2 separate regions of the Homo sapiens genome follow, and region 2 is linked to region 1. The links come from fine-mapping of genetic effects on gene expression. A gene starts in region 1. The other region holds a variant in brackets. All regions are shown on one strand. Distances are between the middles of the regions. Region 1 holds the start of CFAP251 (cilia and flagella associated protein 251). Region 2 overlaps CFAP251 (cilia and flagella associated protein 251).

The links.
Region 2: its variant is fine-mapped to the expression of CFAP251 in esophagus mucosa (GTEx, PIP 0.96).

What each region holds. Positions count from the first base shown.
Region 1 is chr12:121,917,234-121,920,145 of GRCh38, forward strand. It overlaps CFAP251 (cilia and flagella associated protein 251), which reads left to right and starts at 1,359. Exons shown (of 22, transcript NM_144668.6): 1 at 1,359-1,462. It overlaps PSMD9 (proteasome 26S subunit, non-ATPase 9), which reads left to right. Exons shown (of 6, transcript NM_002813.7): 6 at 1-1,064. RefSeq lists a silencer at 1,488-1,637.
Region 2 is chr12:121,987,054-121,989,965 of GRCh38, forward strand. All of the region lies in intron 19 of CFAP251 (cilia and flagella associated protein 251), which reads left to right. Among named protein-coding and RNA genes, the nearest start is that of BCL7A, 33 kb to the right of the region's middle. The variant A/G (reference allele first, on the strand shown) is at 1,258.

The DNA.
Region 1 (2,912 bases):
GCCTTGGCCTCCTAAAGTGCTGGGATCACAGGCGTGAGCCACTGCGCCCAGCCCACTGCTAGTTTGACTTTTTATAATTGAACCTCCTGGCTATGCCCTGAGATCAGCGCTATTTTGTAAACCGCTGAGGTATGGATAGGAACGAGTAGATCAGACCTCTTGAAAATGCTTATTCTTCCTCCCTTTTATTTTTTGTCTCTTTTAAGATGGTAAAATGGTTCTCAGGGATTCCTGCCAATACTTTGAATTATTTTTTCCTCTCCATGGTATCAGTGTTCATTTCCCCAGTTCTTGCACACCGCTTTCTGTTTTGGCAGTTCTGCCAGGCAAGCCCTGTGTTCCTTGGGACTGGTTTTGCTGTGGTTGGATACAGATACCAGCTTGCCTTGATGGGATTGGTATTGCTGTGTGCTTCCAGCCACAGGTTCTCACACTCAATTCCAAAGCCTTCCTATTGGGCGAATTCCCTCAAACTCTATTTGACCTGACAGCCATACGTATTCCCCTCTGGTAGCCACAGACATGCTGTGTTTACCAATGTTTGCTGTTTAAATTGCATGTTCTAATTCCACGTATTTTCCAGTCTCTTTTATAAAGTCTCAGACTATAATAAACACAGCTTGCCCAGTTTATCCTTTCTTTTTTATTTTAAGATGTATGCATATTAATCAATTTACCATCACTGGGGCATGGCAGTGTGGGCGGGGAGAATTATTCACATTCTCCTAAAATGACAGCAGCAGAGAGCCTTCTGCCTCAGTGGCTCTGGCTGGTTTCCTGCAGGGGTCCCAGTGGAAACCCGTGTGGCCACCTGTTGCCGTCTTCCATGAGATGTTAGTGGAGAGCCACTTTGACGTGGAATGATCCTAATAGATATAGCCAGACCGGTTTTGCGGAAACGCTTTGTGCTGAGAACCGCAAGCTGGTGCACCCTGTGTCATATCTGCCCCCAGCCAGCTGGAATTGTCTGCAACACGCGGTGCCCGGTGAGGAGGCAGGCAGGACGGTTGTGTGCTGCATCCATGAGACCTGGAAATTCAGTTTGCTTTTGGAAAAGAGCATTGTATCCGAGTTCATACTTCTCCACCCCATCTTGCCAAGGTTGCGGAAAGTAAAAATTGGCAGTATTGGCCGCTGCAGCTTCTTAGGGGACGGGACCATGTGAAAAGGTGGGATCGTGCGAGCGGAGGAAGGACAGAAAAGCGAGGAAAGTCTATGCCGCCAGCGACCGGCAGGAGGCACGTCGGGCACGCTCGTCACCGTTTCCTGGCACGTGACCACCGCCCTGCCCTGTCGCTTTAGGGCCTGTCGCTTCCGGCGGTGGCGGTTGCCATGGGGACGGAGCTTGGGTGGCAACCAGAACTAGGGAGCTGGTGGAGAAGGTGGCGGCCGCTGGAAGGAGGCCCGGGAGGTGGCTGAGGGGTCCAGGCGGCGGGACGACTCTGGCCTTTTGAAGACCGGGGTGGGTGCTCTCTGTAAGTCCGGGGCGGAGGCCACGCGGCCCTGGCGAGGGGGCCCCCGACCTGGCGGGGTCTGGTGCCCCTTGGGGGGCGCTCACCCGACCTGGCCCTTGTGGGGCCTGGGGCGGCCCCAGGGAGACCTGAGTTGGAGGCAGAGGCCGCACCTGGGCTTTAATCCCCTCGCAGAGCCACGCACCTGGCACCCCTGCCCCAAACCCCTGCGGCTCGAACCCGGCTGTCCAGACGCGCCGGCGAAGTTGGGCTCAGTCAAAAGAGGCTCGGTGGTGAGAGCCCTAGACTTGATTCAGAGCAGTGATTTTTCAGCTGGAGAAACTAAGTGCCAGAGAAATCTCGTTCTTACTAGCGGTGTCATCTTGAATAAGTCACTTCACCTCTCAGAGCCTCAAACTCATTTATCCATTCATTATTTATTTATTATTATTATTATTATTTTTTTTTTACCAGAGATGAATTTGAGGAGCTGATACATTTAGTGCTGAGAAAGAAATTAAGAAATAGAAATACCTTTTCTACTCTGTACTCTCTGGGACTTTATTTTCAAAGTGTTGAGTTCTCTTATTCTAATGTCACTGAAAATGTAGGGATTTTTTTTGTTCGGGGTCCAACTCTTTAGGGATAAAGTATCCATCCTTATTGTTTTCCTAGTTCAAACTCTTGTTTGTTGTAAGGAATAAATGGAGAATATGCCAGAAGGCTTTCAAACTGTTCATTTCTTTGCACATTAGGGTTGCTTTTCTCTCAAATAATAACAACTGCTACCATTTTTTCAAGCTGTATGTGCCAGAATTGTGATGAGCATTTTATATATGTTATCACTTCTCTACAACAACCCTAGAATTTAGGATTATTCTTTTCATTTTGCCCATGAGAAAATGCAGACTCTGAGGGGTAAAGTGACTTGCCCAAGGTCACAGAGCAAGTACGTGGTGGAAATGGGATTCAATGCTAGGACAAGCTGACAGCAAGGCCCTTGCTTTTAACCACTAGGCTACCCTGCTTCTTCTCGTATTCCTGTTTCTAGAATTGTTGCTAATATGTGGGTTATGCATTTTGCTGCCTGTGGGAATATAAATATATTTTAAATGAGTAAAAAGGCTACAAGGTGTTTATTCCCAGAAAGTTGACAGGCCCTGGATCAGTATTTTTAAGATCTGGGCCACAAATACATATACTTTAAGATTTCCCAGCTGCGCGTGATGGCTCACGCCTGTAATCCCAGCACTTTGGGAAGCCAAGGCGGGCGGATCACTTGAGGTCAGGAGTTTAAGACCAGACTGGCCAAAATGGTGAAACCCTGCCTCCATTGAAAAAATACAAAAATTAGCTGGGTGTGGTGGCAGACGCCTGTAATCCCAGCTGCTCGGGAGGCTGAGGCAGGAGAATAGCTTGAACCCTGGAGGCAGTAATTGCAGTGAGCCAAGATCGTGCCAC
Region 2 (2,912 bases), 70 kb after region 1:
AAGTGGTTCAGCCTCACCCATAACGAGGGGGGTAATTTGAGCCAAGAAGCACAGGGACAATTTCTGTTCTGATAAAGACCCCGAGGGAATTTGGAAATTTGCACTTTGAAGAGAAGCCCTCAGTATGTTGGGTCTTGCCCTGAAACGTAAATATCAGCAGGCATTTCCATCCTGAAGGTAATAGAAGTGGCCCAGTGTTCTAGGGGAGGCCTTCCTGGCCAACAGAGAGTCCGTGGCCAGGCCCCTGCCCAGCGAGAGGTGGGCTTCCTGCAGAAAGATCAGAGCAAGACAAAACTATTTCTGCTTTTCACATGTAAAGCATTTAAAGAAATAAATCTTGGATTACTATGCAGCCATTAAAAAGAATGCAGGCGATAGAGTCCAGGCCTGGTGGTTCATACCCGTAATCCCAGCAGTTTGGGAGGCTGAGGTGGGCGCATCACCTGAGGTCAGGAGTTCGAGACCACCCTGGCCAACATGGTGAAGCCCTGTCTCTACTAAAAATACAAAAATTAGCCAGGCATGGTGGCGCACACCTGTAATCCCAGCTACTCGGGAGGCTGAGGCAGGAGAATCGCTTGAACCCGGGAGGCGGAGGTTGCAGTGAGCTAAGATGGCACCATTGCACTCCAGCCTGGGCAAGAAAAGCGAGACTCCGTCTCAAAAAAAAAAAAAAAAAAGAATACAGGTAATAGTAATGCATAATACCATTCTGGGAAAGTGAGGCCTAGAGAGAGAAGAAAGATTGTATAGTCACTTAGCTACCGAGGGCACAGCCAGGGTTTGAACCAAGCTGGCTGACCCCCAACTCCAGGTTCTGTTCCTACGTATGTATGAGTTGGTACAAAGAAGGAAGAAAACCCTAAAAATTCTGGCATCCAACACTGGTTATTGCTGCAGGACGGGGAATTTCAGGGCATTTTATTATTATTTTTCTTTATATCTCCATTGTTAGAATTTTTCATAACAAGCATGTTTCACTCTTGACTGGTTTTATGATATAAAAGGGTAGATCACAATGATGGTGGAAGATATATTTTAAAAATATTTTAAATATTTTTAAATATTTTTAAAAATATTTCAAAAATATTAAATTAATGTTCTTAGAATCGAAATGTTGTTACTTGCCATTGCCATGGCTTCTCCATATTATTTATTTTCTTTTCTTAAAAAAAACTTTATTGAGATATACCACATACCACGTAATTCACCTGTTTAGAGGATGCAGTTCATTGGTTTTTAGAATGTCCACCGAGT[A/G]GTGCAGACATCACCACCACGTAATCCTAGAACATGTTTATCATCCCAAAAAGAAACCCCAGACCCATGAGCACTCACTTCCCATTTCTCCTTCAACCACCGATGTGCTTTCTGTCTCTATGGATTGGCCTATCTTGGCATTTCATATAAATGGAGTCATGAAATATGTGGTCTTTTGGGTCCAGCTTCTTTCACTCACTCAGCATCATGTTTTCCAGGTTCATCCAGGTTGTAGCTTGTCTCAGTCCTTCATTCTTTTCTTTATGATTGAGTAACATTCTATTCGTTCATGTAGATATGCCACATTTTATGTATCCATTCACGAACAGATGGACATTTACGTTTTCCCATTTTCTTGGCTATTATGGATAAGGCTGCTGTGAACATTCGTGTGCAAGTTTTTTGTTGTTGTTGGATTTTTTTTTCTTTTTTTTCTCTTTTTTTTTTTTTTGAGATGAAATCTCCCTCTGGCTGGAGTGCAATGGCGCGATCTCGGCTCACTGCAGCCTCTGCCTCCCAAGTTCAAGTGATTCTCCCACCTCAGCCTCCCGAGTACCTGGGACTACAGGTGCCCGCCCCCACGCCCAGCTAATTTTTGTATTTTTAGTAGAGATGGGGTTTCACCATGTTGGCCAGGCTGGTCTTGAACTCCTGACCTCAAATGATCCACCCAACTTGGCCTCCCAAAGTGCTGGGATCCCAGATGTGAGCCACGGTGCCCGGCCCACATCACTTCTTCACTTGAGCTAGGAACCATCTGGGGCTTTAGGGTGCATGAGGCAGGATCAGGATTTTAGAGAGCTGTGGACACAGAATTAGCAAATCCTTGATTGTGGGTTTGGTACAAGGTGCAAGACTTGTCATTCAGCTAGGACTGTCTCTTTCAGACCTTTGAAAACATTCACTGGGAAGGGAAGAGTCCCTGGAGGTGTTTGAGACCTGGGCTCTGATGCAGGGCAGGGTGACAGTCACTCTAAAGGGCCCTGTGAATGGGTGTTGTTCACATGGAGTAGAAGACAGTGGGCAAGAGCACCAGGCCAGGCCTTGGCTGCTGTCACCTGAGACTGCGTCCAGAGGGCAGAACTGTGCATGCATGCCCCACTCCTGGAAAAAGAGGCAGTCGCCATCCAGATCTAGTTCCTGGAGGGAGGTATGGAGCAGTTGGGGTCACAGTGTTGCATGAATCGCAGAGGGGGCGCTCACAGGGGTCTCCAGATGTGGCCATGCAGTGACGCTGCCCAGCCCTTACGCCCCCTCCTCAGCCCACTACTCCCTGCCCCGGGTCAGCGAGGAGATGCAGGGGGTGACCAGGGGAGGGTATGAGTGAAGATGATGAGTGGGAACAAGACACTGTGCCCCATTAGTTGAGAATGTTCTAGAGGGTATTGTGCGTTGGGAAGAGGGCGTGGGGAAGAGGGTGAGTGCTCCCAGTCCTACTGGTCCATGAAACCATTAGAAAAGCAAACCTGCCCCCACCAGGAGCCTGCTTATAAAAACAAGGAATGGCCCCAGTTCAAATATATCGTGTTCCTCTCCATTTAATAGGGAGGTTGTAAAACTTAATTATAGAACATAATTCTAAGGACATCAATGGCTTCCTGAGGCTGACAGCAGGGATCACAGACCCAAAGGCCTGCGTCATCAATGACAGAGGC